Linked DNA regions of Homo sapiens: regions 1 and 2 are each linked to region 3. The links come from fine-mapping of genetic effects on gene expression. A gene starts in region 3. Each other region holds a variant in brackets. All regions are shown on one strand. Distances are between the middles of the regions.

Region 1 (4,164 bases), 22 kb before region 3:
GGAGGAACAGAGCTAACCCTGCATAGGACTGGACACAGCAGCCAGACCAAGAGAGGCATCTAGTGAGAAGCAGCTCTTCAGCCCTGGGCCTGGTGCACACATCACTCCTTGGTTTCTAAGAACCAAATTTGGCCCAGCACAGTGCCTCATGCCTGTAATCCCAGCACCTTGGGAGGCCAAAGCGGGTAGATCATGAGGTCAAGAGATCAAGACCATCCTGGCCAACATGGTGAAACCCCATCTCTACTAAAAACACACAAAAAATCAGCTGGGCATAGTGGTGTGCACCTGTAGTCCCAGCTACTTGGGAGGCTGAGGCAGGAGAATCACTTGAACCCGGGAGGCAGAGTCCAGTGAGCCAAGATCACACTACTGCACTCCAGCCCGGTGACAGAGTGAGACTCCGTCAAAAAAAAGCCAAATTCATACAGTCCCTGAGGAGTGGGAACTGATGCACATCTCTTGTATACAATAAGCTATGCTTGTGCTCTGAACGGTGTAAGATTGAGAATTGTATTCCTTTAAAGAAAGTTCGGCAGAACTGTAACTGAATTACTAACAAGGCACTGAGAAGGCATACCATACTTTGTATTCTTTTTAAAGTCCCTGTTAGGTGGTGGTGTAGCTGGAAGTGTATAGTATTGAGGATGTAAAGTTTCCCCTAAAAAATTTTTGGTATTTGGCGAATGGCATAACACATCAAAAAATTGGTTGTATCATATGATTAAATTGCAACGTGATGATTTCAACTTGGTGGAAGACTTCTGCTTCGTCTTGGTATCTGAAAATCCCCTTTGCTTCAAACTTAATACACACCAAGGAGAACAACCTGATACAAGTTTGCAAGTGTCTTTGAGCTAATGGTTTTTCGTGGGTATTAAAAAGCATTGGGTTATTTATGTATAATTACGTAGAAAGAAAATGTTCCATTCAAGATACGGTTACACGAAAAGGCATCTAGTTGGGACCTTCAAATTATTACTTATATACCTACAGAAAATTCCTATAAATAGGCCGGGCGCGATGGCTCACACCTGTCATCCCGGCACTTAGGGAGGCCAGGGTGGGCAGATCACCTGAGGTCAGGAGTCCAAGACCAGCCTGGCCAATATGGTGAAAACTTGTCTCTACGAAAAATACAAAAATTAGCCAGGCATGTTGGCCCATGCCTGTAGTCCCAGCTACTCAGCAGGCTGAGGTAGGAGAATCACTTGAACTCGGGAGGGGAGGCTGCAGTGAGCCAAGATCACACACCACTGCACTCCAGCCTGGGCAACAAAGTGAGACCCCCATCTCAAATAAGGAAAGAAAATTCCTATGAAGAAACACTATACCTCTGAGTTTCAATAATAGAGATGATTAACCCAGTTTCCCTGCAAGGATGTGCTCACTGTGAACAGATGTAGTGGTTACCACTCCAGATGTCTGCCTAGCATTTGAGACAACAGTCCCTGTCACCCCTGCCTCTCTCTGGGAACTTCTGCCCCACCACCATACAGAGGGGCAGTAGGCCCAGCCATAATCAACTGAAACAGATACAGAGTTATGACCTGAGCCTAGGCAATTAGGTTTTCTCAGGAATATGGATCTGGGACTAAAGAACTCAGCATCTTCCTGTGACTGGAATTGTAGCATGTAAGTACAGAAGCTTTGGAGTGCCCAGAAAGAGCAGAGAAAGCCAGCCAAGAGAGTGCCAGGTTTAAGTTGACAGAAGAGGTCAACAAAATCGTGAAGTGAGTGTTCTGGGGACCTGAGAGTCAAGGGACTGGATTCTGTACAATGTCTCTGCATCATCATAGTAAACTTTCTACACATGCTTTGAAAGTAAATATCAGATAATTTGGAGCACAGTATAATGGTAAAGTATAAAATGTGAACTTACACAAGTACACCACAATTTCCGCCTCACTGACGAATAACTTGGGGCATGTTCTTCTTGACTGCTCGGAGCCCCCATTTCTTTATCTGTAAAAAGGAAATAAATTACATAGCTGTGAGTTATTGGATGACATCATAAAACCCAGCACAGAGGGCTGGACGCGGTGGCTCACGCCTGTAATCCCAGCACTTTGGGAGGCCACGGTGGGCGTATCACGAGGTCAC[G/A]AGATCGGGACCATCCTGGCTAACATGGTGAAACCCTGTCTCTACTAAAAATACAAAAAATCAGCCAGGTGTAGTGGCGGGTGCCTGTAGTCTCAGCTACTTGGGAGGCTGAGGCAGGAGAATGGCGTGAACCCAGAAGGCAGAGCTTGCAGTGAGCCAAGATTGCACCACTGCACTCCAGCCTGGGCAACAGAATAAGACGCCATCTCAAAAACAAACAAACAAAAAAAAGCCAGCACAGAGTAGGCATGCCAGCATTCTCTCCCTTCTCAGCCTGCAAAAAGATTTATCAATTTACCTCATTTTCTTCTGTTCCTTGTTCTGACCTCAGTGCATGACCCATAGCACCAAGTGTTACTGTCGTTTATGAGTGAACAATTGAGTTAATAAGGAAATAAATTGAATGTTTTCTAACATTTTGACCTTAACTTATTTTTTAAAACTTTGTACCTCCCAGAGCTGGGAAGAGATTCCAGATTTCCCGACTTAGTCCAGAATGATGACTAATGCTGGACTTCGTCTATAGCTCTTATTGAAATGTCAGAAAACATTTTTTTCCCCAAAAACTATTAACTGATAAATTTATAGCATCAAACTGCATTTTTTAAAGGAGGCTTTTTGTTTTTTCTTTTTTGAGAGAGAGAGAGTCTTGCTCTGTCAACCCAGGCTGGAGTGCCTTGGCATAGTGTCAGTTCTCTGCAATCTCTGCCTCCCGGTCTCAGGTGATTCTCCTGCCTCAGCCTCCCAAGTAGCTGGGACTACAGGTGTGCACCACCACATCCAGCTAATTTTTGTTTGTTTGTTTTTGGTAGAGACGAGGTTTTGCCATGTTACCTAGGCTGATCTTGAACTCCTGGACTCAAGTGATCCACCCACCTCGGCCTCCCAAAGTGCTGAGATTTCAGGTGTGAGCCACCACACCTGGCCAAAAGAGACTTTTTTTTTTTTTTTTTTTTGAGACGAGTGTCGCTCTGTCGCCAGGCTGGAGTACAGTGGCATGGTCTCAGCTCACTGCAACCTCCACCTCCTGGGTTCAAGTGATTCTCCTGCCTCAGCCTCCGGAGTAGCTGGGACTACAGGCACGGGCCACCACGCCCGGCTAATTTTTTGTATTTTTAGTAGAGATGGAATTTCACTGTGTTAGCCAGGATGGTCTTGATCTCCTGACCTCGTGTTCTGCCCACCTTGGCCTCCCAAAGTGCTGGGATTACAGGCGTGAGCCATCGCGCCCAGCCCATGCGCAGCTAATTTTTTTTTTTTTTTGGATTTTAGTAGAGACAAGGTTTCACCATGTTGCCCAGGCTGTTCTTGAACTCCTGAGTGCAGGCAATCCGCCCACCTCACCCTCCCAAAGTGCTAGGATTACAGGTGTTTGGTTTTTTGTTTGGTTTTCAAGCAACCTTTCTAAATTTTGCTATGCTCACTCTTTCTTCACATGTTGGTACTGGCTAGATACAGATTTTGCTTTCCTATTGGAGACTTTTGAGAGCTGGCTATCCCCTCTTGCTCCTTTTCTTTTTTCTCTTCCCTACTTCCAAGTTTCTTGCTCTTTTTCTTACCCCATAAGTTACCAGAAATTCATACGCCCTTGAGAGCGCTTTTTGTTTGAACTTCAGTCTTTGGTTTCATCAACTTTTCTAAGGAAATTGATCTGTTAATGAAAGTTGGCTTGCTTGACTTCAGAATATCTGTATTATTCAGTGATATGTGTTTTTCTGGTTGCTTTGTTTGAGCACAGTGTAAATATCACCCATTGCATAGCTTTGGCAGTGACATAAATCTAGCAGCGTAAGATTGAGAAAAGCTAGAAGTCCCACCACAGATTGTATTTCAGTGAAAGGGATTCTTTTTAACTGCTTATAAAACTAAAGAAAACTTATAAACATGGAAAACAATTATTAAACCCACCATATGCTCATACTGATATTAAATGGTGTGCCGGATTCTAGTAAGAGTTACCTTTTGGTAAGAGCACTGCTTGTTAACTATAGTTGATTGCTTTAGATGTCTAGTGTGTACACAAAAGCATGAATTTTATTCCTTATAACCAAAGTAGAAACC
Region 2 (4,205 bases), 72 kb before region 3:
ATCTCAGCTTTCCAAAGTGCTGGGATTACAAGCATGAGCCACCGTGCCTGGCCACTAAATAGATTTTCTAATCCTTTTGTTCTCTCTGCTCATTTGGTTTCTATTTGCATGGAATATCTTTTTCCATGCTTTAACTTTCAGTCTGTATGTCTCTTTACAGGGAAAGTGCATTTTTTGTGGGCAGCACGTAGTCGGATTATGTTTTTTATCCTTTTAGCCAGCCTGTATCTTTTAAGAGGAGAGCTTAACTCCATTTACATGCAGTTATTAATTATATGTGAGCCTTTTTTCTGTCATATTAACGGTTTTCTGGTTGCTTTATATATTCTTTGTTCCTTTCTCTTATTGTTTGTTATAGTGGTTTGCTGTCTTTTTATGGTAGTACCATTTGAGTCCTTTCTCTTCCTTATTTGTGTGTTGCTTTACCACTGAGTTTTCTATTTGTGTGTGTTTTTATGATCATAAATGTCATCCTTTCACTTTCAGGTTTAGGACTTCTTGAACATTTCTTGTAGGTCTGGTCTAGTAGTAATGAATTCCCTCAGCTTTTGCTCGTCTGGAGAAGACTTTATTTCTCCTTCATTTATGAAGGATAATTTTGCTGATTATAGTATCTTTGTGATATGGTTTGGATTTGTGTCCCTGCCCAAATTTCATGTCAAATTGTAATCTTCAGTGTTGGAGGTGAGGCCTAGTGGGAAGTGACTGGATCATGGGGATGAACATGAACTTCCTCCTTGCTTTTCTCATGATAGTGAGTGACTTCTCATGAGATGTGGTTGTTTAAAAGTGTGTAGCATTTTCGCCTTCACTCTCTTCCTCCTGCTCCGACCCTGTAAGATGTGCCTCCTTCTCCTTCCTCTTTGCCTTCTGCCATGATTGTAAGTTTCCTGAGGCCTCCCCAGCCATGCTTCCTATGCAGCTTGAAGAACCATGAGCCAATTTAATCTCTTTTCTTTATAAATTACCCAGGCTCAGATAGTTCTTTACAGCAGTGCAAGATCAGACTAATACACTTTGGCTGGGAGTTTTTCCTTCAGCATTTTGAATATATCATTCTCTTATCTCCAATGAATATATTATTCTCTTTTCTCTTCTCTTTTCTCTGGGTCTGTAAGCTTCCTACTGAGAAACCTGCTGTAAGTCTGATGGGGGTTCCTTTATAGGTGACTAGATGCTTTTCTCTTTGCTGAATTTTTTTTTTTCCTCTTTGCTGTTTTTAGAATTCTCTTTGTCTTTGATTTATGGCAGTGGACTATAAATATGCCATGGAGAATACCTTTTTGCATTGTATTTGTTTGGGGATACCTGGGCCTCCTATATCTGGATATCTACCTCTCTTGCTAGACTTGGTGAGTTTTCATGTATTATTTCACTATTTCACTAAATAGGTTTTCTGGTATTTTTTGGTTTTGTTTTGTTTTCGAGGCATAGTTTCACTCTTGTGGCCCAGGCTGGAGTGCAGTGGCGCAATCTTGGCTCACTGCACCCTCCACCTCCCGGGTTCAAGTGATCCTGCCTCAGCCTCCCAAGTAGCTGGGATTACAGCCATCTGCCACCATGCCCAGCTAATTTTTTGTATTTTTAGTAGAGACGGGGTTTCACCATGTTGGCCAGGCTGGTCTTGAGCTCAGGACCTCAGGTGATCCACCTGCCTCAGCTTCCCAAAGTTCTGGGATTGCAAGCATGAGCCACTGTGCCTGGCCACTAAATAGGTTTTCTTTTTTTTTTTCTTTTTCTTTTTTTTTTTTTTTGAGACAGAGTCTCGCTCTTTCGCCCAGGCCGGACTGCAGTGGCCTATCTCGGCTCACTGCAAGCTCCGCCTCCCGGGTTCACGCCATTCTCCTGCCTCAGCCTCCCGAGTAGCTGGGACTACAGGCGCCCACCACCGCCCCCAGCTAATTTTTTTTTTTTGTATTTTAGTAGAGACGGGGTTTCACCCTGTTAGCCAGGATGGTCTTGATCTCCTGACCTCGTGATCCGCCCGCCTCGGCCTCCCAAAGTGCTGGGATTACAGGCGTGAGCCACTGCACCCGGCCACTAAATAGGTTTTCTAATCCTTCTGTTCTCTCTTTGCTTTGAGATACCCCAGTAATTCAAATAAATATTTGGAGGCCGGGCGCAGTGGCTCACGCCTGTAATCCCAGCACTTTGGGAGGCCGAGGCGGGCAGATCATGAGGTCAGGAGATCGACACCACCCTGGCTAACACAGTGAAACCCCGTCTCTACTAAAAAATAAAAAAAAATTAGCTGGGTGTGGTGGTGGGCGCCTGTAGTCCCAGCTACTCAGGAGGCTGAGGCAGGAGAATGGCGTGAACCCGGGAGGCAGAGCTTGCAGTGAGCCGAGATCATGCCACTGCACTCCAGCCTGGGGGGCAGAGCGAGACTCAGTCTCAAAATAAATAAATAAATAAATATTTGGTCACTTTATGGAGTTGCATA[TGTCACAAAGACTTC/T]GCTTCTTTTTTTTTTTTTTTTTTTTGAGACAGAGTCTTGCTCTGTCGCCCAGGCTGGAGTGCAATGACGTGATCTCGGCTCACTGCAACCTCTACCTCCTGGGTTCAAGCGATTCTCCTGCCTCAAGCTCGTGAGTAGCTGAGATTACAGATGCCCATCACCACGCCCAGCTAATTTCTGTAATTTTAGTAGAGACAGGGTTTCACCATGTTGGCCAGGCTGGTCTTGAACTCATGACCTCAGATGATCCACCTGCCTCGGCCTCCCAAAGTGCTGGGATTACAGGCATGAGCCACCGCATCTGGCCGACTTTGCTCATTTTTAAAAATTCTTTTACCCTTATTTTTTTTTTTGACTATATCAGAAAAAAAAGACCTGTCTTTAAGTTCTGACATTCTTTCTTTTGCTTGATCTAGTCCATTGTTGAAGCTTTTGAATGTATTTTGTTTTTTATTCTATGAATTCTTCAGTTCTAGAATTTCTATGTGGTTCTTTTTTTCTGATATCTATTCTCTGGTAAATTTGTCATTCATATCCTGAATTGTTTTTCTGATTTCTTTGTATTGTTTTTTGGAAACTTTTTGTATCTCACTGAGCTCCTTTAGTATCGAAATTTTGAATTCTTTTTCTAGGATCTTATGAATTTCTTTTAGATTGAGATCTGTTGCTAGAGAATTATTGTGTTCCTTTGGAGATGTCATATTTCCATGCTTTTTAATGTTTTCTATGTCCTTTACCTTGATATCTGTGCATCTGGTATAATAGTCACTTTTTCCAGTTTTTTTAATTTACTTTTGTAGGGAAGAACTTTTTCCTGAAGATGTATCTTTAGTATTGCTTGGGTAGAGCACAGTGGCTTTGATTCTAGGTGGGTGCAATAGCATAGGATCGGTATGACTTATTTGGCTGTAAACAGCATCAGTGGTGTCTGTGATTTCATCAGTGACTTAGGGTGCAGTTGTTAGTGGAGGCTGTGGTAAAGTTTTGCTGGGGCCTGGAATGCCAAGTAGGCCAGTCTTCAGGTCGCAGTGGTGGTAGTTGTGGATTGAGCATGCCTGTCCCTGGGCCCCAGAGTGTGTCTGCTGGCACCAGTGTTAGCAGGCCAATTCTTGAGCCTCCAGGTAGCTTGATCAGGTGCTGGGAATGGCAGCAGTGGGCCAGGCTGTTGGGTGGGTTCTTGAGCCCCTGGGCAGTGGATGTAGCATGGGAAATGGCAACAGCAGTGGTGGGACAACCCTCTGGGTCCTAACTGATCAGCATTGGTTTTGGCAGTGACTGTGATTTGTTGATTGGGCCAGTCTCCATATCCACAGGTGGTGCATGGCAATGAGTGCCAGCTGTGGTGGTAGCAGCAGGTTAAGTGGGCCCTATCTCAGGCCCCAGGTTGAGTGCGCAGGTGCCACTGGTAATGGACTGGGCTGGACAATACCTAGTCCCCTGGACATTGCTCTCAGGTACTGGTAGGGGCTGGAGCCAGGACAGGCTGTGTGCCCTTAGGTTCCTCGGTGGTGCGTAAAGATGCCGGCTGTGGTTTATAAGGGTGGGGTGAGTGTCCCAGGCCACCAGCAGAATGTTCAGGTGGAGACAGCAGCATGTTGTGTCGCTGCGACTAAGGAGAGTGAAGTTGCTTCCCCTGGGAGCAGCCATAGGTAGGCAGCATCACCTGTGCGTCGGCCCACAGCGGTCTTTAGCCACAGCAGCTGCAGGCAGTGGAATTTGTCCTCAGGGTTCATGAGAATGCTCAGCC
Region 3 (4,205 bases):
CCCTTTTCTTCCCAGGCTGGTCTTGGACTCCTAACCTCAAGGGATCCTCCTGCTTCGACCTCCAAAAGTGCTGGGATTACAGGTGTGAGCCACCATGCCCAAATTTGTACATTCTTTTGGTGTACATATAAGAATACATTTGTAAGATAAATTCCAAAATATGAATATCTTGGGTCAAAGAAGAGCTGAATTTTACATTGATAGCTATTGCCCACTTGTTCTTTACAAAGCGTGTATGGATTTATACTCCTATCAACAATAAATTAGCCAGGCATGCTGACGTGCACTCGTAAACCCTGCTATTCAAAAGGATAGTTGAAGTCCAAGAGTTCAAGACCAGTGTGGGTAACATAGAGAGGCCTCCTCTAGGGGAGGAAAAAAGGGTTTCCCTATATCCTCATCAAAACAATATATAGTCAAACTTTTCATCTTTGCATTTGTGAAAAATTGTATTTTATTTTTGTTTTATGATACTTTAAGAAATCATTTGTATTTTTCTGTAGAAACCTGTTTTTCTCTGAGTTGAACATTTTTGTACTGATTTTTTTAATAATTAGAACTTTTTTAATAATTTAGAACTTTTTGTCATACATTTTACAAATATTTTTCTTGGTTGGGGTTTGTTATATTTATTTGCTATGCAGAAAATTTAGATTTCTATGTAGTTACATTTATCAATTTTTATTTATTTATTTAGAGACAGAGTCTTGCTCTGTCGCCCAGGCTGGACTGCAATGGCGCGATCTCGGCTCACTGCAACCTCTGTCTCCCAGGTTCAAGTAATTCTCCTGCCTCAGCCTCCCAAGTAGCTGGGATTACAGGAACCCCGCCACCACAACCGGTGAAATTTTTGTATTTTTATTAGAGACGGGGTTTCACCATGTTGGTCAGGCTGGTCTCAAACTCCTGACCTCAGGTGATCCACTCACCTCAGCCTCTCCAAGTGCTGGGATTACACGCGTGAGTCACCGTGCCCGGCCTACATTTATCAATTTTTAATTTTATGGTTTATATGCTCTTTGAAAAGTCTCTCACCACTCCAACCTTACTTTTGTTTTTTTCCCTTGTTTTCTTCTGGTATTTTCATAACCTCTCTCTTTTTTTTTTTTTTTTTTTTTGTTTTTTGAACATTTAACTATTTGCTTTGTTTGGAATTTACTTTCATGTGAGGACATCAAATAGATCCAGTGTTTTCCTCCGACATGCCTCGACTGGCAGGAGACCAAAGTTTTCATTCTATTACTAGAGAGTAGCTATAGTTACAGAATCAGGTATCCTGAGAGAGATCATTTATGCCCAGGATGAATAACTTGTCTTATCTATTAAATCTATTAAATCCTTTGGAGATTTCACTTTTTTTTTTTTTTTTTTTTGGGACGGAGCCTGTTACCTAGGCTGGAGTGCAGTGGCGCGATCTCCCAGCTCACCACAAGCTCCGCCTCCCAAGTTCAAGCGATTCTCCTGCCTCAGCCTCTCGAGTAGCTGGGATTACAGGCATGTGCCACCACCACGCCCGGCTAATTTTGTATTTTTAGTAGAGACGGGGTTTCTCCATGTTGGTCAGGCTGGTCTCGAACTCCTGACCTCAGGTGATCCGCCTGCCTCAGCCTCCCAAAGTGCTGGGATTACAGGCGTGAGCCACTGCGCCGGCCCCAAAATTTCAGGTTTTGATAGACGGAATGGGTGAAGAAAATGAGAGCTAGCAAGGAAGAACAGGATGCAGAGGCAAGACTGGAAACTCTCCAAGAAAGGTTAACTTTTCTTAACTCACAAGTTAAACAAAGGCTGCAGGCTCCATGCGGAGCTCAGGCACCCAGCGGTGACCGATCCAGACCAGGTCCTCCCGGAAGCCCGGCCTGCCCGACAGAGCCTTACCACAGAGCCCCCTCAGGCGTCCTCGCCAGGACGGGGCGGAACCCTGTGTAGCTCCCACCCCCGGGACGAAGGCCGCTGCCAGGGCCGCGCAGCCACGCGAGTGGAATCAGAGGAGCCTCGAGGCAAGGAGAGCCGGGCCCCGCTCCCTGCGCCCGTCACCGCCATCCTTGTTGTAGGGAACTCGGCCCCCGAGCCGCCGCCGCGCTCCGTGGGCTCCCAATGAGCCCCTACCCCAGCCACCCGCTGCGTTTGCGCCAGCCTCCCAGACTAGCCTGGGGTGCTGAAATGGGGGCGGGCCCGAGCCACGGGTTGGGGCGGGGTCTGATGCGCGCCCCGCCCCGCAACGCCCCGCCCCCCCGCGCCTACCTCTCCAGTCCGCGCCCTTCGGCGCCCGCCCCGCCAGTCCCCGCCCCTCCTTGCCCAGCCGCTCCCGCCCCTCCCCCGCCTTCCCGCGCGGCCCGCCTCGCCTTCCCCCCCCTCCCGCGCCCCCGCGCGGCCGGCCCCTGGCCTTCCTCCCCTTCCTGCTCCGGGCCCGCCAGTAGCCGGCCGCGGCGGCGAGGGACTAGGACGCGGCTGGAGCGGCGCCGGGAGACGAGGGGCTGAGAGACGGCGGCGGCCGAAAGCGGAGAGATGCTGGGCGTGGCGGCCGGGATGACCCACAGGTACGGGCCGCACCGCGCGGCCCCCGCCACGTCCGCCCCGCAGCTCCCGGCGGGCCTTCGGGCCGGGCCGGGCCGGGCCTGGCGCGGGCGGGCGGCCGGGCTTTCCCCGCGGCCTCCCCCGGTCGGCCGGAGCCCCGACCCCCAGCGCTCGGGTGGCGGCGTGGCTGCGTCCGGGCCCGCGGAGGAGACGGCTGCTGTTCACTCCCGGGTGTCCGCGGTGGCACAGGCGCTGACGCCGCCCCGCTGCTCCGAGAGTTCCATAAGACAAATCAGTATTTGCCGAGCTAATCATTTATCTTCTAGCAGTAGGGATCAGCGGGTCGCAGACGTCTTGGTCTCAGGACCCCTCTTGGGACTAGAGGACCTGGAATGGTGGCTATCTCCATAGACTGTACTAGAAAGGAAAACCGAGACACTGAAGTTACTATTAACTCATTGAATAAATCCGTGGTATGTTAACGTACATACCACATTTTTATGCAACATAGGGTTTTGCTAAAACAAAAGAGTTCGTGGGACGACTGGCGTCCTTTACAGTTTGCGAATCTCTTGAGTTGTCTGACTTAGTAGAGACAACTACGTTCTCCCATCTCCTTTGCAGTTCAGTCTGTTGCGGTATGTTTTTATATGAAGAAAATCTGATCTTACACAGATGTGTAGTTGGAAAAGTGAGTACTGTCTTAATAGCTGTTTCAGATAATTATGGGTATTCTTTATTACTACACCAAAACTACGTAAGTGGAAGTTTCTCAAAGGCTGGTTTGGACGTGGAATCTGAAGCTACTGTCAGCGGACTTTTCACACAGTTTCGTTAAAATTCCTTGGTCTGTCTTGCAGTTTGAATGCAGCTAAAGCTCCTGTCAGTGGCCTTTGCACACAGTTACGTTAAAATTCCTTGGTCTGTCTTGCAGTTTGAATGCAGCTGTTACCCATTGTAACACCATATATTTGTCGTTTGGAAGATATTGGCTCACTGAGTTTGGCAGATCTCAAGCTGACGCATTTCATTAATAGCGCCGAATAACATTCGTTACCATCGCTATTGATTTCATTAGGAAAGTCTTTATGTTAAAAGCCGTCAGATACAAGGTGGTGTTTACAAGTTTTCCAAAATTCTCATTTTCGGTTGAAAGCTTGCTTTTTATCATTGGGAGCAAAATATTGTCAATTGTTTTCCTCAAAGTGACAGACTCACTTTGTTCAGTTTCAAGGAAGTGTCCGGCAATACAGGTTTAAATAACCCTAGTTTGTCAGTTGTTCTTTCCCGTAAAAATGGTATTTCATGACACAAGCAAGTTAATTCAGCTCATCGCTCTATTACAGAAGTGCACGCCTGCCATTTGGTCACAAGTAACAAAAAAGAGTCAAAGCTCAAGATTTGATAACAATAATTTGTACTCCTTCATCATGGACTTTTTTCCTTAAAAAAAAGTATTGACTAGTAAGTTGATATAAAATTTAAAGTATTTGTGAGATATTAAGAATAACGGATATGTAGTGTAATAAAGGAGATAATAGTTTCCTTTTAAGACCTTCAAACCTCTCTGGTCCAGTGTCTCTCCGCATCCTATCCCCTTCCCATCCTGAATTTACCATTAGTAATTTACTTTTTGGAGGGAGAGTAATAAGTTCATTCAAATTATTGTGCATCCGTAACCATCATACATG

Alleles and levels. Alleles are on the strand shown, and positions count from the first base shown. SD is a standard deviation of normalised expression in the study named. Not every link is listed here.
For the expression in tibial nerve of the gene that starts at base 2,162 in region 3, G is the high allele of the variant in region 1 and A is the other (moderate effect, 0.45 SD a copy in GTEx).

What was found. PIP is the estimated chance that this variant, and not a neighbour inherited with it, causes the effect.
Region 1: its variant is the best candidate, but not a certain one, in a credible set for the expression of GCC2-AS1 in tibial nerve (GTEx, PIP 0.59).
Region 2: its variant is the best candidate, but not a certain one, in a credible set for the expression of GCC2-AS1 in lymphoblastoid cells (GTEx, PIP 0.50).

What each region holds. Positions count from the first base shown.
Region 1 is chr2:108,510,048-108,514,211 of GRCh38, forward strand. GCC2-AS1 (GCC2 antisense RNA 1) reads right to left here. Exons shown (of 3, transcript NR_135290.1): 2 at 1,883-1,965. Among named protein-coding and RNA genes, the nearest start is that of GCC2-AS1, 22 kb to the right of the region's middle. The variant G/A (reference allele first, on the strand shown) is at 2,104.
Region 2 is chr2:108,460,098-108,464,302 of GRCh38, forward strand. The region is part of intron 4 of GCC2 (GRIP and coiled-coil domain containing 2); the gene reads left to right. Among named protein-coding and RNA genes, the nearest start is that of GCC2, 13 kb to the left of the region's middle. RefSeq lists an enhancer at 877-946. The variant TGTCACAAAGACTTC/T (reference allele first, on the strand shown) is at 2,444.
Region 3 is chr2:108,532,058-108,536,262 of GRCh38, forward strand. It overlaps GCC2-AS1 (GCC2 antisense RNA 1), which reads right to left and starts at 2,162. Exons shown (of 3, transcript NR_135290.1): 1 at 1,772-2,162. LIMS1 (LIM zinc finger domain containing 1) reads left to right here and starts at 2,413. Exons shown (of 10, transcript NM_001193483.3): 1 at 2,413-2,537. The coding sequence starts at 2,506. RefSeq lists silencers at 1,276-1,570, 2,059-2,658.